Linked DNA regions of Homo sapiens: regions 2, 3, 4 and 5 are each linked to region 1. Evidence: fine-mapped expression QTL. A gene starts in region 1. Each other region holds a variant in brackets. All regions are shown on one strand. Distances are between the middles of the regions.

Evidence for each region. PIP is the estimated chance that this variant, and not a neighbour inherited with it, causes the effect.
Region 2: its variant is fine-mapped to the expression of AKR1B1 in prefrontal cortex (CommonMind, PIP 0.95).
Region 3: its variant is fine-mapped to the expression of AKR1B1 in blood mononuclear cells (TOPMed, PIP above 0.99).
Region 4: its variant is fine-mapped to the expression of AKR1B1 in whole blood (INTERVAL, PIP above 0.99).
Region 5: its variant is fine-mapped to the expression of AKR1B1 in blood mononuclear cells (TOPMed, PIP above 0.99).

Annotation. Positions count from the first base shown.
Region 1 is chr7:134,456,223-134,461,355 of GRCh38, forward strand. It overlaps AKR1B1 (aldo-keto reductase family 1 member B), which reads right to left and starts at 2,878. Exons shown (of 10, transcript NM_001628.4): 1 at 2,775-2,878. The coding sequence starts at 2,840. RefSeq lists a silencer at 2,488-2,677.
Region 2 is chr7:133,674,433-133,679,432 of GRCh38, forward strand. The region is part of intron 10 of EXOC4 (exocyst complex component 4); the gene reads left to right. Among named protein-coding and RNA genes, the nearest start is that of MIR6133, 390 kb to the left of the region's middle. The variant GTGTA/G (reference allele first, on the strand shown) is at 2,521.
Region 3 is chr7:134,531,061-134,536,193 of GRCh38, forward strand. AKR1B10 (aldo-keto reductase family 1 member B10) reads left to right here. Exons shown (of 10, transcript NM_020299.5): 3 at 848-964; 4 at 1,944-2,021. Among named protein-coding and RNA genes, the nearest start is that of AKR1B10, 6.1 kb to the left of the region's middle. The variant C/G (reference allele first, on the strand shown) is at 2,718.
Region 4 is chr7:134,698,153-134,703,285 of GRCh38, forward strand. All of the region lies in intron 1 of LOC124901750 (a long non-coding RNA gene), which reads right to left. Among named protein-coding and RNA genes, the nearest start is that of BPGM, 54 kb to the left of the region's middle. RefSeq lists a silencer at 4,745-5,039. The variant G/A (reference allele first, on the strand shown) is at 2,767.
Region 5 is chr7:134,522,732-134,527,864 of GRCh38, forward strand. It overlaps AKR1B10 (aldo-keto reductase family 1 member B10), which reads left to right and starts at 4,836. Exons shown (of 10, transcript NM_020299.5): 1 at 4,836-5,133. The variant G/A (reference allele first, on the strand shown) is at 2,651.

The DNA.
Region 1 (5,133 bases):
GGAGTCTTGCTCCATCGCCCAGGCTGGAGTGCAGTGGCGGGACCTCGGCTCACTGCAACCTCCACATCTGGGGTTCAAGCGATTTTCCTGCCTCAGCCTCCCAAGTAGCTGGGACTACAGGTGCGTGCCACGATGCCGGGCTAATTTTTTGTATTTTTAGTAGAGACGGGGTTTCACCATGTTAGCCAGGACGGTCTCTATCTTCTGACCTCATGATCTGCCCGCCTCTGCCTCCCAAAGTGCTGGGGTTACAGGTGTGAGCCACCGCGCCCGGCCCCAGGGAAAGGTTTTAAGTCATTAAAAAAAAAAAGGAAGTTGATTCCAAGTCCATCCTTATACCATTACTTTGACCCACCATTCCCCGCTGCCCCCACCGTACAATTCTACACCAACCTGATCTCCTCATCCACAGGAATACAAGTGGGCGTTTTCACCATACAGCTATCTCTAAAGTCGTTTTACTTCTTCATATGAATTCAACACATAACTTTTGGATACCTACTCCTATATTTGCCAGGCACTGTGAGAAGTGCTAGAAATAGTAATGAATGAAGCAGACATTATCCAATTTCTCAATGAACTCTGTCTACTGGAATGCATAACCTAAATGTACAGATGTTATGATGTGATGTTATCTTAAACAAATACATAGCTTTTTGGGGCATTGAGTGCTCAAGTGAATAATCTGAAACCCTCTTTCATAAACTTTTACTCCTCAGCCTGGACAACATAGGGAAACCTGTCTCTACAAAAAATTAAAAACAAACTACCCGAGTGTGGTGGCACACACCTGTGGTCCCAGCTACTTGGGAGGCTGAGGTATGAGGACCACTTGAGCCCAAGAGGTTAAGGCTACAGTGAATCATGATCATGCCACTGCACTCCAGCCTGGGTGACACTGAGCCCCTGTCTCAAAAAAAAAAAAATAAACTTTTACTCCTTATTTACCCTAGAGTAGTGATTTTCAAATGATGGGTCACAAAACTAGCTTCTGGAGGTATGACAATAATTTTTGGAAAAATGGAATAGAAAAAAATATTGAAATGCAGCCTACATAGGTTAAGTACTGTTAAGTAATTTTTATTCCAGTTACATGTATATATCTGTGCGTTGCATCATGCTTAGAAAGTATTTGCTATTGCCAAGAAAGCATCCTTCTGCATCCATTCCAAGAGCATAACATGCAACAGATGGAAATTAGCTTGGTGTCATGGTTGTAATTCAATTACAACCTTAGAGACACCACTGGAGTTTTTGGAGGAAACAAATCACGTACCCTGATCATTCTGGCCAAGAAACACTCTCCCTGATGCAAATGACCTTTTTCTTACCTTATATTTACTAATTTTCAACAGCAGGTTTTAGGGTACATGTAAACTCTTCTGTCCTATTTCAAACATCTCACAGTTCACTCAGTTCTTTCTGTTGTTTTCTTCCCTTGTCTGTGTGTAAATATCCAACGCCCAGGCCCATATTCAAATTTTAAGAGAAAAACCTGGGACGTGGGCCTGCCAGATGGTTCACACCTGTAGCTTTGGGAGGCGAGGTGGGAGGAGCGCTTTGAGCCCAGGAATTGGAGATCACCCTAAGCAACAAGCGGAGACTGTCTCTGCGGGGAAGAAAAAAGATTAGCCAGGTGTGGTGGTGAGCGCCTGTAGTCCCAGCTACCCGCAGTGCTGAGGCAGGAGGATCACTTGAGCCCAGGAGTTCCAGGCTGCAATGAACCATGATTGTGCCACTGCACCCCAGCTTGGGCAACGAGACCCTGTCACAAACAAACAAGCAAACAACAAAAACAGAAACTGAGAAACCCAGGTTATGGCTGTGGAATATAATATGCAATACTTAGAAGGTTAAAAATTCTAGGTTTTGCCTCAGCTCCCATACCACCACCTTTGTTGCTCAATTTTCAGATAATCAGGCTCAGGCTATTATTTTTGGTTTTTCATATCATATTATCATTTTTCATATCCTATGATGTTTCATGTCCTATTGTCATTCTCATCCGGCTAGGCACTTCTCGGGGACGCTGTGTGGTGTTGAGGTTTTACAGGGAAAATGCTAACCTTGGCGCCTCCTGAATTATCAACTAGCTACGGGGTGCCCAGATTTTTCTCCCGAGTTCCAGACCCAGGGCACCCCGAGGCGGCGCCTGGCCGAGGAGCTCCGCACTGCGCCTTGTTAACAGCTGGGTCCGGGCAAACTCGCGCCACCTAATTCTCTGCCCTCTACCGGCTTGAGATGCTTATTCCTCAGGGAGGGCAAGAATCGAAACGATTGAGACCAACTATTTACAAGTGAGGCAACCGGGCTACAGGTGCCTCGAGGGAAAGGAGGCTGGGTCTGCGCTCCCACACCTTGCCGACGGCTCCACGTCCCTGTCTGCGCCCGAGGTCCACCGGTCTGTGAAGCCCACTTTCCCCGCCTCCCTCTCGCGTTGTGCCGCTTGGGGCGCCCGCTAGGACCCAAAATGCGGACTGGTGGGCCGCCCATCAAGGGTTGCCCGCGGTAGGGCGGGGGCTCCCGTGAGCTGCTCCCAAACCCCACTCGCAGGATGCTGCCCTGACGCCCAGGGCCAACCCGGGGAGCCAAGGCCCCCGGTCTCTGCAAGGCCGACCCCAGCCCGCTGGGGACCCTGCAAGCCCGCGCGTGGCTCCCAGCACGCCGGGCGTCCGCGGGGCGAGCTGCTCAGGGTCACTCGGGGTCCCTCGCCAATACAGGCCGCGCGGAGAGTGTGAGGCGAGCCCCGGGCCCGCGCCCCCACGAGCACCTACCTTCCAGGTACCCAACCCCAGGATGGGCATCTTGGCGCCGTTGTTGAGCAGGAGACGGCTTGCCATGGCTGCTGCGCTCCCCAGACCCCCGCCCAGTACGGTGCGGCCTTGGCCGCGGCGCGTACCTTTAAATAGCCCGTGAGGTCGGCAGAAAGGGCGCCTGCGGTTGGCGCGCCGCTGCGCGAAGGAGCCTTCTGATTGGTTGCGCTGGGGGTGCCGCGGCGGCCTTCCCCAAGGGTCGGCGGGGATGCTTCTTCCGCCTGGTCCTAGTGGCAGCGGATTCTTTCCGCCCCCAACGCTCGCCCGCGCCCCGCGTGGCAGAAAGGAGTTCCTCAGCTGCTGTATCTGGTGGGAAAGCGAATGCTTTAGCGAAAATAACAGGCATCCCATAAATACATAGACTAGAAATAAGTTTTGGTTTCATTAAGAGCCCAGAAGAATGCCTTTGTTGTCCAACCCCAGTTTGATGCTCTTTGGGAATCTGACGAATACCTTGTCCTTAATCTATGTGAATCATACTGACTACACATATAGTTTACCGCACTTTGTTCTTAGACAAAGGTGCATGCCAGAAAAATGGCTTGCAATCCTTTTGCAAAGCACCTTCACAAAATATGGGTTTGCCCAGACTTTTTGTAGCCTTCTAGATCTCTCTTTGCACCCCACTCTAGGTGTTAGCTGTGTCTGTGCATACTAGGTGTGGTTCAGCAAGCCTTCCACCAAAAGCCAGCATCCTTTGATGTTCTTGAGGTTAGAAAGCCTTGATGGGCTTGATCCAGAACTCTCAGAAGAATTTGGAAAGTAAGGCTGTCCATTCAGAATCAGTAAGACAAATTTCATCAGTCTTTGGAAAGTGAGACTCTATCAAAGCAGTAAGTTCCAGTACAGTAACTTATCAAAACTCTCTAGAGGAAGAAAAGTGAACAGACAGAAAACCACAGAAGAAAAAGTTGACTCTAATATTGTAGCTTCCAGTATTTCAAATTAGAAGGTACAAAATAGTAAATTGATCACCCTAATTGGCAGGTAGAAACACACATTTTTCCAAGATAGCCTAAGAAAAGTCACTTGAAGATCCTTGAAGACAATTTTGGTTTCTTTCCAACAACCTCTCTTCATGATACTCTACCTCACCCCAACTGCTCTTTCTGCTCCATCACCCTCCGATCTTTCCCCTAATTATGCAAGATTGGGAACTCCATCTGCCTGGTAGTGACTCAAGCACCAGGTCTCTCTAAACTCCATGCCGGTGATTTTCCATTTGGTGCTTTCTTTAAAAGTGCTCCCTCCTGGAAAAATTTATACAGAACAGACTAGCCCAGATATTTTTCCATGTAACTTTTGTAAAAATTGTTGCTATTGGGCAAATTCATTTGTCCCCAAGTAATAGAATTTGAACTTGAGCCTAAAGCTGGGAACTTGCTTTGTGTAAAACAGCAAGTTCCTTCCTCCATGAGAGTCCTCTTGACTTGGAGGTTGCTCTGCCAATTGAACCTCCTGGGTCCAAATCCAAAGAGCTAATCTCTTGTGAAAATGATACACCTTGAGTGGCCAGGTTGGTACACACAGAAGGGTCGTCTGTTAGGGACATGGACTCAATATCAGAGGCTTTGTTGTTGGTTTGATAATAATTGAGTATACAGCTTGATTGCATGAAGTTATAACTGTGTCTAAAGCTGGAGTGATACCTGTAGTCTCAGCTTCTCAGGAGGCTGAGGTGGGATGACTGCTTGAGCCCAGGAGTTAGAGACCAGCCTGGACAACATAGCAAGACCCTGTCTGTAAAATAAATAAATAAACCCAGAATATTTTGGCTGGGCCATGCAGACATGAAAAGTTGTATCAGTGGAATTTCTATAGCAACAATAGCACTCTAGTTGGGACATGCTATTGTGATAGCCCCCTAACATCCCCCATTGCCTCTGTAATCTTTGTAAAATGTACACATACCAAAATTTTTGATCTCAAGATTTTTGATCTCCCATCTTTTGATAAGTATACATATCAAAATTTTGTTTGAAAAAGGGAAAAAAACCTTCAATGGAATCCTCCTGAGAAACACTCTAGTAATTGGAATCTTAACATGCTCTGAACCAGTAATCTCCCATCATGGGAATTTTTCCTAAGGAAATAATTTAAAAGGAAAACACACACACACACACACACACACACACACACACACACACACACACACACTAGGTATAGGGCTGGGCTGGGACCAAGGTAAGACAAATGAGGTACACAGGTACAAATTTTCATGCCAGAAGGTAGGAGCTTTTTTACATTTATGTCCTTGGCACTTGCCTTCCCTTAGTCCCAGGCCTGCACACAGATATACACATATGCGTATGTATTTTTA
Region 2 (5,000 bases), 780 kb before region 1:
CATTGTTTTAAGGTTTGAATTTTTGCAATTCAGGTATATAAAAATGATAGATTACCAAATGAGTTTGGTGTGTTTAACCTCATGATTCACTTATATGCCAATAATGTGCCTTGCCTAGAATGTTTGCTTTCTAATGTTTCTGTGTTACTCCAGCTGCCTCCCTTTATTGCTGTCATATTACAATGAATGTTTTCTGCATATTTATGAAGAGCCTATTAGCAGCATAGACTTGATTTAAAGAACTTCTCCAGTTTATGAATACAGTTCATCTCTTGTGAATGAATTTAGCACTTTAATGCTATTTATTTACTCCACACCATAAAATGTACTATAATAAATAATAGGTCCCTTGGGCCTATGGTAAAACTCACTGATCATCCTCTCAGCAGGAAGATGAACACAACTTGAGTGGAGAAGTAACCATCAAAGTTCACCATGCTCACTGGGATGTCATTTATATACCTGAATCTAATAAAGACAGAATTACAGTGCTTAACATTGTGCTCACTACTAGCATCTGAATTCAGTGAGACTCAGGGAGGGAAAAGACTCAGTCACATTAGCAACATCTTAGAAGGTGATACAAAGTCTAAATTGGCAATTCAAATAAGAAAGTGTTCTTTAAAAGCATATAATGCTTAATTTCTTATGCTAAATACACAGTAAGTTAGTGTTTTCCATTTTCTTCACCCATGGAAAACCCTTAGTTTTGGAGGGTTGTGTTTTTGGTGGGGGATGGTAGGGGGCAGGGGATTGCTTCAAAATCTCTTCTCTGTCAATTCCATTTGGAGTTTTCAAGGCGACCCCAGCTGTCAGCTATCCATAAATGCAATATCTACAAGCCAGGACGTCTGTGTGGCATTTGGTCAGTAGGGCCATTCTGTTTTATGGTTGAAGTCCAGAAAGAGTCAATATATGAGTGTTCAAAACTCTTTCTAGATGAATGTATGCCTGATTATATTCTAAGATTATTTGGGTTATTTTTGTGTTATCTTTGTTTTTATTTGATATGATTTGCTTTTGTAGATATTTGTTCCTTTAAATAAATGGTCACAAATTTGAATGCTTAAAATTTGAAACCAGGCAGTGTATTATAGAAACAGTATAGGCCATAGTTCTGTATCAGGGAAGAGTTGACTTTATTCTGGAAGATTTTTAGGTCTGATTTACTAGTTGTCTACTTCTATGTGGACAAATCATTCTGCTTTGTAGATTATTTGATTTAGAGCAGACTACATATCTGATGGCTCTGCCAAGATGAATTAGCCCCTCACTACATCTCCAGATAACGGCGTAGGAGTGAGGAACTGTATACCGTATCCCTCTAAAGAGAGGCTTCAAAAAGCACAATCTTGATTTGGGTGGTTGGGAATTGTTCCTTTGTTGGACAGCTTTAATTATTAAATTGAGATGAAATATGCCAGCTTATGATTTTTAATACTAATTTATTCAACCTCAAAATTCCCAGTGCACCATTTGGTTCTCTTCTCAGGCAAATTGTTAGTTTCTGCCTTGTGTATTATTTATGCTTGTACTATGAATAAAGGATGTCTCATCTCTATGTGGCAATGTCGTCTGCTTCATGAGCTGACAGTTTTGAAGAGGAACATGAGACAGTCAGATCTGTTAGTGCAACTCAGTCAAGCAGGTGGTCGCAAAATTCGTGGCGTGAGAATTGCAGTCATTCATTCATTCATTCAAAAAATATTTATTGAGTGCCCGTTATGTACCAGGCACTGTTCTAGATACTAGATGGTACTCATCCTCTATATCTTCCTTGTACTCTATGAGAATAAGGTTGTTGTCTGATCGCCTTTTATCTTCTACTTCACCCGACAAAGTACATTACATTTAGAATGGGCGCAAAATTTTATTTTAAACAAGTAGCATACCAAGTATGCCTCTTTTGTTTTAGCTGCAACTGCTGGAATGGGACCGAGTATGCCTATTTTGAAGAGCAACATAGAGTAGTTCTAATCACTTTATGACACCCGTTAAATATTTCAATCACATTAGCCTCAAGTCTAGACTGAATAGCACCAGTTCTTCTTCTAAATAGTTTGGCTGCCCTTCTGTGAGTCTTTTCTAGTTGACTCTTGTCTCTTTTCATGTGTAGGAACCAGGACTGAAGACAGTAATTGTGAGAGGATCTAGCATGTACAAAGTGGAAGGGAGGGTGTTATGTTTCTGTGATTTATTACTTTCCCAAAAGATGTTTTATCAGCTACCACCCTATCCTTTTTTCCCCAAGGCATTCTTTTCTCTCTCTAATTAAGTAAATAAATTAATTAATAGGATATCTATGTGGTATCTAACTGTGTATACCCTTGAGCTATTTATTTTCCTATTTTTCTGGTCATTTTCATTAGTTAAAAGTCTGTTCTTAAGATCTCTTATTTACAGTAGGAGTTTCTTATGTATATTATAGAAAGCTATTCAAAAAGTTATATTCATTTAATCAAAAAATAAATTATTGGGGGGTATGTAGTAAACTCTGTGTGTGTGTGTGTGTGTGTGTGT[GTGTA/G]TGTGTGTGTGTGTGTGTGTGTTGAGAACAAAGTGATGAATCACCAAGGCTTCAGAGTTCTTGCCTCCTTTATTCTGACAGTCATTCTTATTTATGCTGATAACATCTGTCTTATCCTTACAAGGTATTATTCTGTTTTATTAGAGCTCCCTGTTTCATATACATGAGAAAAAACTTAGTGGTTTAGTAATTCTTAGTGTCTCCCTTGTCTCTAATGTTTTGAGTTTTAGGAAAAAAGAACAGAAGATTCTTGTTAACATCTTTGTTACCGTTAAGATGTATTGTTGTTTCTAGGAACAAATGACAAATCCCATGTCTTTGTCATTCCATAAGCCTTCTACCAAATCCATGGGTCAAAGTGCCGTATGCAGGTGATTTACTGTGCTTGATTTGTTCCATGATTTCATCTTTAGACACTTCCATCTTTGTCAAGGCCATGCTAATCTCACCACAGAGAATGTATACTAGAATTTCTCAAATGTCAAATATATTGTGTACACTTAAAAAAAAGATTGTCATCTAAGTTTATCAATCATAAAAATAAAATTCCATAGTTTCAGTTTGCAATTACAAGCTTGTGTCTTAAAGTTTGTTTTGCTCCGATTTTTAATTTGGCTTTTTCTTTCTTTATACATTTCAGCTTCCTTCTTTCTCTAGGTTAATTTCGCAAATATTTCTTAAATGTTGGCTATGTGCAAAGAATTGTTTTAAGCACCTTAATAGCTACAAAGATAAGTAAGAGCTTATCTCTACTTTCTCCTACCCCAAGGCCACCCAAACCTGCTAATCAATCTTAAATCCTTCTCTTTCTGCTAAATATCATTAGAAGGCATCACTTTGAGGGCTTTTTTTGTATTAGTTGTAACTGAGGGATTTTTAAAATATTTTAATTGGTTATTATTGGTAGATATATTTGAGAGACCTTACATCACATAGTGAATTAGGATGTTTATTGAATGTCCTATAATGTGTTCAACAGTGTACTGTTGTTAAAAAGCATCATTATAATTGTACTCTAAAACTTGCAATTTTTAATGTCTTCATTGCCTCCTGCATTTGTTGAAATCAATAATAACCTTTTAAAAAGTATGAACTTTATGATATGTAAATTATATCGCAGTAAAGCTGCTATATAAAAAAGAATAACCTAAAGTATCTAAATTATATTATTGGGTGTTAAAACACAAATAGCCTTCTCTTGTTAGATTTAATCCCACATGTAACAAATTTGCTGGGCCATTTTGCAGCACCATAGATTGACTGCTTTATTCCACATACTACAGTTCTAAAACATGAGGAAATCTTAGTTAACTAATTGAAACACTCATTTGGATAAGAACTTGAGCATGGTTCAATAATTCTCAATTTCCCACTTTGCTTGTAAAACACAATGTAAGTATGGAATTACCCTCTTCACAGCTTATTGCACTATGTGTTCAGTCACAGAGAAATAATTTAAAGCAGTTCACTTCCAACTGTTTCCCTCATGCTGACCCCTTTCTTAAAGTAACGAATTTCTCAAGGTTATGTTTATTTTGAAATTATAAATTTAGTCACATACCTGGTTGGTTTCATTCTCCTTTTGTTGTTTTCCCCTTTGGAATTTCCACACTGTGTCACCAAGCAAGCTCTTGATTGCTCCCACCCTCTTTTTTTTTTTTTCTTCTTTGTTGAGACAGGTTCTTGCTGTGTTGCCCAGGCTGGAGTACAGTGGTATGAACACAACTCCCTGTATCCTCAACCTCCTGGGCTCAAGTGATCCTCCTGCCTCAGGCTCCCAGGTGGCTGGGACCACAGGCGCATGCCTCCACACCTGGGTAGTGTTTTTTGTTTTGTTTCTTTTTGTAGAGCTGGGGTCTTGCCATGTTGCCTAGGCTGGTCTCAAACTCCTGGGCTCAAGCATTCTCCCCGCCTTGACCTCCCAAAGTGCTGGAATTACAGGCATGAGCCACCACACCTGGCCAGCTTCCACTGTCTTTATGGCTCCTCGTCCTGCCTGGTTAATCTCATACTTCTTTCAATTAAATACTTTATTTTATTTTTTATTTTTGTGTTTATTCTTTATGCATTGAAACCGATGTCATAACTTCTGTTTTGTTAAAATCTTTAAGGCCCATCACATATTTATAATTTAGGTCCTTGCCTTGGTGTGTTTTCCTCAGTGCTCCCAACCATAGAAAAGCAGGACAAGTTTACAGTTGCTATTCATCTAAGTCTGATGCTTCTTTCCCATAAGTTGTTTTGGGAATTAAGCATCTTGCTGAAAGTGAATGTGCCATTTTGAAAATCTTAGCAAATTACATTTTCAGAATTTTATAGGGCCTTTTTTTCCCTTTCGCTACCTTTGTTCCAAATCATGCTTTTGAAACAATCTTTCTCCCAAAGCATTTCTATTAATAATACTTTTCAGTTCTCCCTCTTATAACTCATTGTGATAAATTACCTCCTCCCTCCATGATGTTAATGTTCTGGAGGC
Region 3 (5,133 bases), 75 kb after region 1:
CCTGGGCCTCCCTGTTCCCCATCAGAGGGATCTACCATCTGCCCAGAGGCAATCAGAGGCCAAGGGTGCAGGCGGGTCTTGATCTGAAGCCTCCCTTTCAGCACTGTGATCTCAGTGACTGTGCCCCTGAGACTCTCAGCCAGGGGGAATTTTAGAAAATGGTAGGGGCATTTTTCTATTGTCACATATGAATTTCTTTATTCATTCTAGTAAAAGGTGAGGGATACAATGTTATAAAAAAGAAGAAGATGTTGGGTGTGAGAGGGCTGAGAATCACTGGATCTATATTATACATAACTTGCTGAAAAAAAATAACACTAGTTCTAGGTACTTGGAAAATGCATACATCTGGTAGGACAAATAGACCTCACTGTGTAGCAGCCAAGTCTGGATAAAGCCTTTGTAAAATTATCACTTGGGGCCTTATAGGCTTGATAAGGGACCTATCAGATAGGTCAGATAAAGGACCATCTGCTCCCAAAGGCCTAAGAATGCTTGACATTTAAAAGCTACACACAATTCCTGCTCTCAGAGAGCCTACAGCTGAGGAAGAGACTGAGACAGGTAAACAAATTTCAAATCTGTGGCCACATTTACTTCAATGATCTGAGACACGTATAGAGTACTAGGACAGTTGAAAAAGTCAATTGCTTTTAACACTTAAGACATGTCATTGAGGTGCTGAGCCCTGGTGATGTTCCACACTGTGTCGTGGATCTTAATCAGCTTTGTTACAAATGGCTTGTGGTGGGTTAGATGAGGATGCAAATCAAAAAGCAGGGACAATGAGTACAATGTGGCCCTTCCTTTTCCCAGTATTAATAGCTCATTGCTACACTCTTTGCAGTTGTGGCCCACTTTCTTTGAGAGACCCCTTGTGAGGAAAGCCTTTGAGAAGACCCTCAAGGACCTGAAGCTGAGCTATCTGGACGTCTATCTTATTCACTGGCCACAGGGATTCAAGGTTTAAGACACTCTCTTTCTCAGCCTCTAGTTTCTGAGCAGGTGCCAGAAAATAGTAGCTGCACCAGGGCTGTGGGGTGGTGTGGACTGGGGCAGGAGGCCTTGCATTTCATAATTGGGAATGGCAGGTGGTCAGGAAGAGACCTTGGAGAAGAAACACACTGGCCTGGAAGGGAGGTTGAGGCCATGTGTGCTGCTGAGGTGGCCACATGCCTGGGTTTTCTTGCAGTTATGTCTGAGAGAAGACATGATTTCTGGCAGCCCAGACAAGTTGCAACTGCCATATCACCTTTGTCTTGATTCCACGCCCCAGGGTTGCCCTCCCAGGAAATCTCTTGGGTTACTCTTGCATAACTATATTCCAGGGCATAATTATCTTATTAAGCAAAGTACACCTGGGAGTGGCATCTTGGAGAAAAGCCCAAGTATGGTGATGCTGGAAGGAAGCCAGTAGTGATCCAGGCACCCATTGCCTGGGGCTCTGCTCTTACCTGCTCCTGAGGGGTGGGAGAGACAAATTTCCAGCTCTCTCCCCTCCTGACCAACTGGAGTGATGATGGCCTGCCACCCCTAATTCCACGCCTCTTCTAGAGGCTGCAAGGATAGAAGTTGGCCAATATCTTCTCCAGAAAACCACAGCTTGGATATCTAATCCTTATCCAGTAATATTGAAATGAAAGTTTGCCCTTGGTTGTATATGGGATCTAGGTGTATGAGGTTAATGTCCATGGTGATAATGAACTTCTGGAATGTACTAGCAGCAAATCTTAAAGTCAAGCCAGTCGTTTCTAAAATATTAGTATGCTACAGTAGATACAGAGATTTTAATTAAACTCACATTCCTAAAGTATGTACTCCAGAACTTGAAAAAGTGGTATGCAGATGTGGTATTTAGCAAGAGTCAGGATCCTGAAACCTTGTTGAACAGAACCAAGTGTCCTGATGCAGATTCCAGTAAACTTTTCATTCTGTGTTCACAGTCTGGGGATGACCTTTTCCCCAAAGATGATAAAGGTAATGCCATCGGTGGAAAAGCAACGTTCTTGGATGCCTGGGAGGTAGGTTCCCAGCTTCCTCTAAGTGTGCTGGGAGAGAAATCTTCAGTTATCCATGAGATTCGCATGGATATGAATGAGGCCATGTGCCTGATGCTTTCTAATTTCATCATTGTGATTTTCTAGCTCTTCTAATATCTTCCTCATCACCTTTGGCTTTTGGGTACATCTGATACTATTTATATTTCAAGGCTAATAGTCTTCAAATAAGACTGGAAATACAATGTACCCCACTTTGGGGAATACACATGCTGTTCTCAAACCAGGGCGAGGCATTTGGAACAGGAGGTTTGGGCCTGGGTGTGCTCATAGCAGCTGAGTAACCTAGGGTCAGTTTTGTAACTCATGTAGGGCTCAGTTTTCTCTTCTTAAAAAGAAGTTGTATAATACATACTACCAATATATATCTTCCAGTGTGTGATAAAGATTAAGATGGTTTACATGCCAGGAACATTAGTCATAAAGCCCATTTAACCCTAGGAGACAGGGTTAACATCCCCATTTATAAATAATGACATTTGAAACCTAGATTGTTTGATGACTTGCCCAGGTCTTGTCACAATGTGTGTGGCAGAGCTGGGATTAGACCCAGACTCATCTGAATCACAAGTCCAACCACCAAAGCCATCAGCATGGTGCTTGGCAGGCAGTGAAGACACATCCAGAAATCAGGGAGCCTGAGTGCTCTGCTTCTCAGAT[C/G]TAACCATGACCTGTTTCACGTCATTCACATTCAAAATGAATGAAGGGATGAACATTTTCTCTGGTCATTTTTTATTATTTATACCCTTTTGCAAATGCTAGTAGAGAATGAAGTGGAGGAATAAGTTATAAATGAACAGTGGCTTATGACTCCAAGAGTTAATCGTGTTATTTTGGTAGCTGTCTGTGTAGGTGTGCATGTAGTTGCGAGTTTGTATTGTGTTTTACAAGCAAAAATATATTATGTTTCAACTTTCTGAAATGCTTATAATTGACATGATTCAATGAAATGTAGCTTTTTCTGTGTATTGTTTGTTCAAAAGCATTAATCCACAAGCACAGCTTTTTGTTGTTTTTATTGTCTTAGACACTCTCACTCTGTCACCCAGGCTGGAGTGCAGTGGCACAATCTTGGCTCACTGCAACGTCCCTCTACCAAGTAAAAGCCATTCTCCTGCCTCAGCCTCCTGAGTCGCTGGGACTAGAGGTGCATGCCACCACGCCTGGCTAATTTTTGTATTTTTAGTAGAGATGGGGTTTCACCATGTTGGCCAGTCTGGTCTCGAAGTCCTGACCTCAAGGGATCCACCTGTCTTGGCCTCCCAAAGTGCTCAGATTACAGGTGTGAGCCACCACACCTGGCTATTTGCATTACATATGATAAGATTTTTTTATCTTAACTCTTATGATGCCATGAAGTATGGCAAGTATGTCAATGTAGCCTGCTTCTCGCAGTGCTGTTTTTTGAATGAATACAAGAACGACTGCTAAATAAAACATTTGAAAGGCATGAAAAGATAGCAGTGATCAAGATCAGAGGCTCTGATTTGAAATGAGCAGGCTTGAATATGTAAGCGTTGGATGTTTATGTAGACCCACAACCAGTTCAGTAGAAACCTCACTGACCACATTGAAGCAGAGAGGAGGAAAAATGTATAAAGAAGTCAAGTTCTAATACAGGAAAACTAACCTGACCTATGTGCACAAAAACTTTTAAATTATCTAATTGCCCCATCTGAAATTTTGGGAAACCTAATGATTTCACAGCTTCTAAATTCTACTGCCCAATTTGGATAACATCATATATCCTAGTGGTTCTCAACGTGGCTATGCATTAGAATCACCTGAGGAGTTTAAAAATCCCAACGTCTAGGCTACAACTCAGAGAAAATCTGTAAGAAACTCTGGGGGGTGAAATCCAGGCACTGGTAATTTTTTTTTTTAATTTAGAGAGAGTCTCTCTCTGTTGCCCAGGCTGGAGTACAATGGCATCATCATAGTTTAGTGCAGCCTCGGACTCCTGGGCTGAAGCAATCCTCCCAAGTAGCTGGAATCAAAGGCACATGCCGCCACATCCAGCTAATTAAAAAAATTTCTTTTTGTAGAGACAGGGTCTTGCTATGTTGCCCAGGATGGTCTCCAACACCTGGCCTCAAGCAATCCTCCTGTCTCAGCCTCTGGTAATATATATCAGAAACATATATATTATTAGTAGGTATTATAAGACTTTTTTTAAGAAGAGAAAGCTAAGGCCTACAAGAGTTAAAAAACTTACCCTAGGTTACTCAAACCTAGGCCCAAAACCCCTGTTCCAATCCTCCTGTCACCTCCCAAAGTGCTGAGATTACAGTCATGAGCCACTGCATCCAGCCAGTATTTTTTAAAGCTCCCTGGTGATTCCAAATTGCAGCCAAAGTTGAGAAGGGCTGGATAAAGTGTTCCCTGAACATGTCGTGCTTATCCCTGCCTCTGAGCTTTGCTCCTGCCTTCCTGTGTCATATGCTCATGTTTTTTCCCTCTTTTCTGTCTTTTTTTTTTTTTTTTTTTTTTTCTTTTGAGGCCCAGCTTATACTCTACCTGAAGGACTCCCCTGACAACTGCGGGCTGTATGTATCTCTTCTTTCTCTGCCCTTTCTGACTCTGTCTATGCCGCTGTGATGTTATCTGAGGCAGCCTCAGTGTCATGATTGATGGCTCCATAGAAGGGAACTCTAGCACTTTAATTGGACTATAAGAATCCCAGAAAAAGGGAGCACATTGTATACATTTACATCCTGACAACTTCTGGGCAGGATCTGGAACATGTAATAGATGGCTACTAAATACATATTGCACTGGAGGCTGCTGCTAACATGTATGGTATCTTTGGGCAAGTTTGGAAAATGCCCAATATAGGCTAAAAATTATACAAAGATTCCCTTCCTTGCGTGTCCATGCAGTTTCTGTACCAGGAAGCATGGCTGGATATGCAAACAGTGGGTCAGGCTTCAGTCCCACACAACTCCATGGCCGGGTGCCCCTATCAGGGTGTAATCTGAATGCATGACCTTCCTGCAAACCAAAGCATGCTTAGTGTGGGAGAGAGGGACTCAGGACCCACAAGTGAGGCTTCTCCGTATGCTGCAGCCTCTTCCTG
Region 4 (5,133 bases), 240 kb after region 1:
ACTCTTGGGCCTTTCAGGAGCTCAGTAATTATCCATTATGAGGCTCCTCACCTGCCCATCACTAGAAACTCCTTTCATTACCTCTTTTTCTCCACCTTTTGTGCCTCCTTTGTTTTAAAAGACTTTGCTATCGAACAACCTGCATTTTAAAATTAGTTTATCCATGCTTCCATTTTTAAAAAGTTATTCCAAGATATGTGCAATTGCCAATTAGAGATATTGGGCAGCAAAAGATAACCAACCCCATCAAACTTGGTTAACAGAATTCTAGCCCAAAGCAAACAAAATTTGACATTTTAACGAGACTGTGCAGGCTTAGCAGGCAGGGGTAGGACTTCAATGTGACTTTTAAAATACTGAAAATAGTTGGAGGACTCCTAAGGGTTTAGGAATCCCAGGGACTTAATCCAGTCCCCAAAGATTCTAAAGATTCCAGAAAATCCTCCATAAAACATAAATACCCTTTATTATATGTGCTTTATGTTGGCCTAAATCCCTTTTTAAATATCTTAATCTCATTCTACCTTACAGTTTGATATTTACATGAGAGTCTCTAAAATACAAGGAAATCCAATTGCATTAAAATATTTCTATGCACATATGGTACCCAGGTGCATAATAAAGGTAGACATCATTATCTTAAAAAGAGTGGCATGCAGTTTCTTCCCTGGTTATTCAATCTCTATCTACTCATATACTTTCCAGCATTTTCCCTCTCCCGTCCAGCCTTCAGCCCTACTTGCCGTCTTCCTTTTCCTTGCTATTAAGTTGGTGGTTCACTAAACTCTTACTAAACATGTGCTGTATTACTCCATGTTTTCCAGAGAAACAGAATCAACAAGATATTGATTCAATATATACACATATATATTTGGACATATACATATATATGGAGAGAGACAGAAAGATAGAGAGACAGAGATTGATTCATTTTAAAAGAAAGTGTGGGAACTGCAAGTCTGAAATTTGCAGGCCCAGACCAGCAGGCTGGAAGTTCTGGCAAGAGGTGACATTGCAGACTTGAGTCTGGAGGCAGAATTCCTTCCCCTTTGTAGGGCCTCAGTCTTTTCTCTTAAGGCCTCCAGCTGATTGGATGAGCGTCACCCACATGATGTATGGTAATCTACTCAAAGTCAACTCACTTAAATATCAATTATATCTTTTAAAATACCTTCTCTGCAACATCTAGGCTGATGTTTGACCAAACAACAGTGCATGACGTTTGTTGTGCCCCCAAACTGACACATAAAATCAACCATCACATGTACAGGCACTGTATTAAGCACTAGGGTGTAAAGATAAATATGACCCTGTCCTTAATCTTGAGGAGTTGATGATCAAATGGAGAAGGAAAGGCAGAAAGGAATCATTTTGGTAAATTCCATATTGAGGTATAGATGCAAAGCTGACAAAGGAGTTTGGCCTTGGGCCAGTATGAGAAGGCTACACTTTATTAGGTGCAATTTGAGCTGGCTCCTGAAGGCTGAGAAGAGGCTCGCCCCAAGGAAAGGCGTTCCAGTGATGGAGAAGCAAAAGGATTTGCACTACGTGGGCAACCGTGAATGGCTGGATGCGCTCATGTAAATAGGCAAGTTTTCTGAATAACCCAGCTGATTTCAAATCACGTTTAGCCATTCCTTGTTACAACATTCCTTCAAAAGAGTCATTTAGCTCAACAAACTCATTGTGGTCCTCTTTTAGACAGAAAGCTTCTCTTTCTCAGAAATGTAGCTGAGTGATGGTATTTTCCTTATAAGAAGAGACGTAGATCAGCTCACTGTCATTGTATCTGAACTCGGGGCTCTCCAGAAAGCAACAATTCCTTTTAATTCCTCTCTTACCTCTTTTCATGCCTCAAATCCCACACACATACCTCAAATCCAAAATAATTCAACCATAGCCTTGTGCATTGATGTCACAGGGCTTTCCTCTACTGAGAGGTTGAGCACAAAATCTCTTTAATTCTCCACTCCTTTCAGACTATGAAATGATGTCTGTTGGTGAATTGTTTATACATTCCAACAAAACAAGCCAACAAAAAAAAACTGAATGTAGTTGGCTCTTTTTTTCTCTCTGTGGATTTCAGAAAATTCCATTATGTTGCCAATTAGGCTTCCAAAATGGATGAACAATCTAAAAAAAAAAATCTAGACAGCAACATTATGTAGAGGAACAAGCACTATACTAGGAATCAGAAAAATGAGTTTTTCTTTTTACTTGTTTAAAACCCATTTATGCCTAGTGTTCCATTACTGGAACGCTGAGCACGTGGGAGTTATTTATATCCTACTGCTTAGGGTCATCACCAAGGTCTGATTGCAAAAATTCAAAAATTGCAATCTCGGGTATAAATGGGTTAAATGTTCTCTTATTTTAACCCTTATCTAAGCTGTGTGACCTTAGGAAAGAACATGGCCTCTCTGAGCTTGGATCCTCATCCATGTGGACTCACACTCTCCCAGGTCCTCCCAGTTCCCTGATCATGTTCCTTTCTTTTTTTGCATTTTGTTTTGTTTTGTTTTGTTTTGTTTTGAAATGGAGTCTCGCTCTGTTGCCCAGGCTAGAGTGCAATGGCATGATCTCGGCTCACTGCACCCTCCGCCTCCTGGGTTCAAGCTATTCTCATGTCTCAGCCTCCCAAGTAGCTGGGATTACAGGTGCCCACCACTGCGCCCGGCTAATTTTTGTATTTTTAGTAGAGACGGGTTTTCACCATGTTGGTCAGGTTGGTCTCGAACTCCCGACCTCAGGTGATCCGCCCGCCTC[G/A]GCCTCCCAAAGTGCTGGGATTACAGGCGTGAGCCACTGCACCCGGCCTCATGTTCCTTTCTTTCCCCCACTTATTTATAAACTTACATTCTTGAATAGAACATCTTTATTCTTTTGCTTTTCCAGTATGTTAAGGCAGTAAAAAATATTTTTGGAAAATACTTAACTTCATGATTTGCCATATACATTATTTTTTACCTAATCCAGGACTGAAAATAGTTAATTTTTGTAGTTGACCATTCATGTGATGTTCTTTCTTTCCATCTGAAGGTAATGTGGAGGCGACATTAACATAACGAAAGCATGGAAGAAGTAGAAACGTCAGTCTTTAATACTGAGCTTCATAACTCTTCCTTCATATACATCATTGCCAAATCAATGTCGGCATTTCAAATTGCTTTGGGATAGCACACCAGCTTGAGAGGAGTTGAGGTGAAGCCTCTCCTTTTGGTCTTCCTGTTGAATAACTACACTGAAATTCACCAACATAGTCAGTGGTGGGCTTTAGGCCACTGAATTAAACCAAGCTCACTGGCCCCATCTAGGGATCAAAAGCATTTAGCCCATGTTCTAACCATTGAATTAGACATCAAAGGTCCAAAGTTCTGAGACTGGCTTAGAATAACCCTTTACCTCCAGGCGGCATAACCTCCAGAACATTCCTGGAGGATGAACTTTTGGCTTTCACCAGCCTGACTGTTAAGCCAGCCACCATGGAAGATGAAATGTCTCACCAGAAATCACTCCCAGGTGGCAGTTCGTGCCTGTTTCCTCTCACATGGCCATCATGGGACGTCATTCTGGAAATCATTCTGCAGCTGTATGAAACCAGGGCCAAAACCCATTCCCCTACCCTGGAAGCAAGGGAAATATGGATATGGGAGAAATGAAATTTACTGACTATTGGTGATGAGGTGCTGTTGTCAAGGGTAAGAACTGGGCAAAAACTTTAAGAGGCTGAACACCTTTTGTTTTATCAAGAAAACTGTGAAAAACCCAAGGCAAAACAAGCAAGAAGCAAAATGGCCAATAGTTTGTCTCCAGCCAGGCCTCTATAAAGACCAGGAGGAGCAGCCTCCCAGGAGTCAGGGAGATAGATAGGCTATCTTCTTGTCTAGTCACTGTGAGATGACAAGGTCACAGGGTCACTCAGCTTTGTTTGTAGAATCCTGAGCCCCCTAAATCCAGTCTTGGATAGGAGGAGTGGGGAAGAAGCTTTATGGAAGGAGGAGTCTTATCAAGATTCTGGGGGACCCGCAAGTGGCTCTGGGCCTGGGAACAGCCACTCTGCCATATTTGCTAAATACCTGTCACCAGCAGAATCCTGCTCTAGATGCTGAGAGGAGCTACAAGGGCTATGAAAGTTCTCTCCATCATGGAGTTTGAGGTATGAATCGACCCAAAACCAGTCTGTAAAAATGCATGTGATCATGCATTTACTGTCCCCCTCAGCTGCATAGAAAGCTACACTAAAGCTACCCCTGCCACTCAAGGGTGGGACACACCTGCAACTTCAGAGTTGGAAAGCACCCACAGTAATCCCGTTGAACAATCCTCTCCCCGATTTACAGAAGAAACAATACCCATGCAGTTGGGAAGAGGCAGCATGGGAAGAAGAACTCCAGGCTGCTGGAGCCCATGAGAGGTCCGGTCCCGCCCAGGCTGCCTGACTCTTCTTGTGAGTTAGGAGAAGGGAGTGAGAGAGGCCAGAATCCGACCATGTGAGCTTTAATCCCCTTTGTGATATAGTCTGTGCTTACAAATGGTTAAGACAGTGTGTGGCTTTGCCTCTTTTTCTGCCCACATGCTGACAATTTTGTTGAACAAAATTACAAGAATAGCACAAGGATAACCTTTCCCCTGCCCTCTGCATGGGTCTTCCCGACATTGTTATGCTCGCCTGTCTTGTGCTATTAGATCAGCTTTCTTATTGCATCTATGCATTGTGGAACATTCTGGCTACAAGCCTGCGTGCTGGAGCCAGACTGCCTGGGTTCAAATCCCACCACTACCTCTGCTGGCTGTGACGTTTGGCAAGTTCCTTAACCTCTGTCTTCAGTTTTCTTGCCTGAACAGTAAGGAAGGGGATCAGATCCTCTCAAAGGTGCTGCTCAGCCCTGACATGATTGTGCTTTTATTTATTTAAAAAACATAAAAATGATGACTGTGCCTATTACAGGAAGGAATGGAACAGAAGGAGCAGGCAGTGGTGAGAGAAAGATGGATCAAAGAGCCTTTCCCTTCAGCTATAAACCAGCTTCTCTTGTTTCTCTTTGCCTTGCTTTTAAGGTATCTCTGACTACAGAGGAAGAAGAACACGGGAACTTTGAGTTGTTATTATTGAGGAAGACAGGATGATCAGGAATT
Region 5 (5,133 bases), 67 kb after region 1:
GTTTTCAATACTTTAAAATTGTTTTTAGTAATTACAGTGTGTAGGCTGTGTTGTATTTTTAGTACTATTGCATGTACATTGTGAAATCAAGCAAATTAGCAATTACGTTTGTATCTTTGGGAAGTGAGATATTCAGTGTGAGAGAATGAAGAAACATAAGACAGGTGAGATTAAGCCTTGAAGTTCTTAACTTGAATCAGAAATGTCCATTTGAAGTCGTGTTTTTTTTTGTTTTGTTTTGGTTTTTGTTTTTTTTTTGAGATGGAGTTTCACTCTTATTGCCCAGGCACGAGTGCAATGGTGCAATCTCCGCTCACTGCAACCTCCGCCTCCCAGGTTCAAGTGATTCTCCTGCCTCAGCCTCCTGAGTAGCTGGGATTACAGGCATGCACCACCTTGCCCAGCTAATTGTTTCTTGTATTACTAAAAATACATGGTAGGTTTTTTAAAAGGTATTTCCTACCTCTTTCTACTGAAAAGGCCTGGAAGCAAGATTCAATTCAATTGCAAAGAATGATTCTAGTTCCCTAATTGTGGTTTCTAAATATCAATTTCCACTAAAAGGAAATCTCCTTGGATAAATGTAGGTCTGGAACAGGAAAGCAATGAAGTTACCAAAGGCTATAAAGATTACATGAAAAGAATGCAAAAGCCAATTTGAAGTGCTCTCAGTGGCAAAGAGGATAATTTGGGCATCAATAAGAATAGCAATAGATTATAACATTGAATATATTTAAATTCATGAATTCAAAGAACACTAAATGACAACTAATCTGTCACCTTGGAGGGTGCTTGGAAACCTCCTTTTAAAAACTAAAATAAAAGAATGAATCAATCATTATTCAGTGTTCCTATTCAAACTATACCTCAGGGTAGCCAAATAATTGATTAGGAGAAATTTCTCCTTAAAGAAGTATGCCAGCTAATACATGAAGAAAGAATGGTATAATTAGTATTTCACTGTTTTGTAATGTTATGAAATAATGGATTTAAGTAATGATCATCAATGACTACTGTAAATAATACAAATAAATAAATACAAATAAAGAGGCAGCCAGTCATTCCACCGGAATAGAAGAATACAATGTATAGGAAGTAGCCAAAAAACAAAACAAAACAAGAATTGGATCTGGATTTTATCAAGCCTCTAGGTCTTATTAGTGTTGCCAAGATATTTGGGGGATAGAGTGACATGATAAATACATTTCTGGGAATGCAATAATCAGCAGAATCCAGAGGGCGGGAAACTATAGAGAGAAAGTGATTTTTTGTTTGTTTGTTTTGTTTTGTTTTTTGGCTTTTTTTTTCCTTTCTTTTCTTTTTTTTTTTTTTTTGAGACAGTGTCTTACTATGTCATCCAGACTCCCGGGCTCAAGCAACCATCTGGCCTCAGCCTCCTGAGTGGCTGAGACTACGGGCATGTGTCACCATGCCCAGCTAATTGTTTCTTGTATTTTTCATAGAGACAGGGTCTCGCTATGTTGCTTCTGGCCTCAAGTAGTCCTCCTGCCTCAGCCTCCCAAAGAGCTGGGATTACAGGTGGTGTGAGCCACCACACCCAGCTAACAAATACAGCACAAGGAGAGAAGGTGGGGACGTGTAGTTTTGCATATTTTCAAAATATTTCATAATAAAAAGATTTTTGAAAAATTAAAAAACAAAACTTTGGTGCTCTCAAATAAAATAAAAAATGTTAACATGCACAGGGGATTCAGATTTTGTGATCCTGAAGTTGTACGATCGGGGTTTTCTTTTAAAGAATACAAAATTAAGAATTCAATGTTAGGTACAAAGCCTAAGATGGTGCTCATGCAAGTGAAGGCAACTGAAGGTCAAGTTTTGTTACCTTCATGGTAAATCCAACTCCATGATCACAGCTTTGCAGCTCCTGACCCTCTGGTACCTGCATATCAGTCTAGCTTTAACTCTGCTGGGCACCCTGTAAGTCTACTCTCTGAGCGTCCCCACACTGGCTTCCTCCCGTTCTTCCAATGTATCTTAGTCGCTTCCACCCCTTGGCTCACACTGTTCTGCCCAGAAACTTCTCTGCACTCCCACAATTCTTGGAATTGTTCTTTTTCCTCCCTGTTTCAGATATATTAGTTGCTGCTTCCTCTGTTTCTTAGAGAAATGGATGAGAATGAAAAGCGGCACTACTCGTTCATTTTCCTTCTAAAAATAATTTTGTCTCAATTTTGTATGTACTTAATTTTAACAAAGTAAAACTTCTTATGCACATATATTCATCAGATTTAAAAAATGAGAGTTTCTTAAGGGTACAAAACCAGGAATAGATTGGTAAATTCATGAAGCTAGAAAGTAGCTAATCAAAACTCTTATGAAAACTTCTGGGGTTGATTAAGAATAGCCATAATTCTGTGTAACAAATCCCCTCAAGAGGTGAAATCTATTTCCCTACTCCTTGGCCCCGTCCTGGCCTTGAGACTTGCTTTGATCAATAGAAGGTGACAGAAGTGACACTGCACACATTCCAAGGGTAGGCCTCCTACAATGCTGCTACCTATGAACAAGCCCAAGTTAGCCTCATGGAAAATGAAAAACACATAAAAAGGGTCCCTGCCTTCCCTGACATCCCAGTCCACCCCAGTGAAGCCCACAGAGGTGAGAAAACCCAGCTGACAGACACCAC[G/A]TGGTTCTGAGACCGGCTTATCAGCTGATTCCTGCCCAAATTGCCAACCCACAAAATCACAAGCAAATAAATGGTTGCTGTAATAACCAGTTTGTTTGTTACACGAAAACAGCTAATCAATATACCTTCTTAATCTCAATTATCTAAAAAAGATATCCCTTCTCACTGATTCATAGCTAAGTGGTTCTGGAAGGAATGTTATTATGAACAATACACATTTCTTTATTCTGTGCATCACATGAAAATGGTCAGAATCAAAATGGAGTCACTAATGTTAAAAAACAAACAGAAGACTCTGACAAATACAGCTGGGAAGACCATGAAAAGAGGGTTCTAATGGTTGTACACCTGAAAACCAAAAGTACCATGAAAGACGGTGAAAACCACAACCTTGAGCAAAGGCCATTGCAACTGAACACAAAACATACTCTGCAAGGACCTCTGAACAACTGCGTGTCCAACCTCAGACTAACACCACTTTCATGATTGATCTTTGGAGCCAAGGCTAATTATTTCAAAGCAATTAGATAATCCTCATTTTTTCCTTGAAAAGTTTTGTCTTCCTTTATTTCCCCAAATATACACATAGTTTACTGTGGCATGCATATTCCCATTGCAGTGCTCTATTCCCAGAGAAATATTTTTCTTGTAGGGACCCTCTCTCTGTTATTTAGGTTGACAGTCACTAAGGATTTACTATTTCAACAATACTAGCACTGCATGTCATCCAGTATACACTGGGAAAATAAAGTGCCGCAAGTGCATATCCAGGAGACTTTGTGGCCACCAGATTATGAGGAATGCATGTATTTAATTATTTATTTTTGGGACAGAGTCTGTCTCTGTCGCCCAGGCTATAGTGCAGTGGCACCATCTTGGCTCACTGCATTCTCCACCTCCCAGGTTCAAGGGATTCTCAGGCCTCCCAAGCAGCGGGGACTATAGGTACGTGCCATCATGCCTCGCTAATTTTTGGATTTTTAGCAGAGACAGGGTTTCACCATGTTGGCCAGGCTGGTCTCAAACCCCTAAGCTCAAGTGATCTACCTGCCTCGGCCTCCCAAAGTGCTGGGATTACAGGTGTGAGACACCATGCCCGGCCCATGCATTATTATTAATGTTGAAGTAGATAATTTAACAAACATCAATGAAGTATAAGATTTTTCACTCATAGTTGCAAAATATCATGCCAATTGCCTTCTATGAGCTGTCATAAGCCACAGCCTAGAGATTCAATTCCATTTCAAGATTCAACCAAAGCCAACTCATCAACAAGAACATGTAAAAGACAGAAAAACCCACTACCGGCAGGCTGAAACAGATGCTGTGACGTGGCCCTGGCCTGTCATGGCGTGTCACAGCATGGCACAGGCCTATATCATGTTCCCTAGATTGCTGACTACCAACTAGTTACAGCTGACTCCAATCAGGTCGGGATTTGACCATCTCTGCACTGAACCTGCAATTGCAACTTTTAAAATTGAAACGCTGCTTCTCACCTCTCCTCCCTAGACTCTATTTCACAGAGGAAACCATCACAGGGAAAGCAAGCCCTTGTTTTTTCTTCCTTCTTTGCTTTGCTTTCTTTCTCTCCTTCCTTCTTTCTTTCCTTCCTCCCTCCCTCCCTCCCTCCCTCCTTCCTTCCTTCCTTCCTTCCTTCCTTCTTTCCTTTCTTCCTTCCTGCCTTCCCTTCTTTCTTTCTTTTTTTTGAGACAGGGTCTCACTGTCTGTCGCCCAGGCTGGAGTGCAGTGGCATGATCTAGGCTCATTGCAACCTCCGCCTCCCAGGTTCAAGTGATTCTCCTTTCTCAGCCTCCCAAGTAGCTGGGATTGCAGATACGTGCCCCCACGCCCGGCTAATTTTTGTATTTTTAGTAGAGGCAGGGTTTCACTATGTTGGCCAGACTTCTTTCCCTCCCTCCTCCAACTCTTCTTTTCTTCCTTGCTGTCTCCCTCCCTACCTTCCAACTTTTGGCTGTGTTGAATTTGTTGACTCATCCTGAACAAGCAGAAACTCCAATGATACTGTCACCTAAGAGAGAACTTTGCACAAGGTTGCCATGTTTAATAATTCATTCACAGAATCCTCAATCTCACAAAAGCCTGGAATGGATTTCCTGTTTGGTTATGGCAGGGAAGCTACTGTGGCCAGGCTCCAACTCCTCCCACTGTAGATAGCAGCAGCCTTCTTAAGCAGCCTGTGGCCGGGCACAGTAGCTCACACCTGTAATCCCAGCACTTTGGAAGGCCGAGGTGGGCGGATCACCTGAGCTCAGGAGTTTGAGACCAGCCTGTCTCTACTAACAATATAAAAATTAGCTGGGAGTCACGGTGGGCGCCTGTAATCCCAGCTACTCGGGAGGCTGAGGCAGGAGAATTGCTTGAACCCAGGAGACAGAGGTTGTAGTGAGCTGAGATCGCACCACTGCACTCTAGCCTTGGCAACAGTGCAAGACTGTCTCAAAAACAGCAACAGAGAGCAG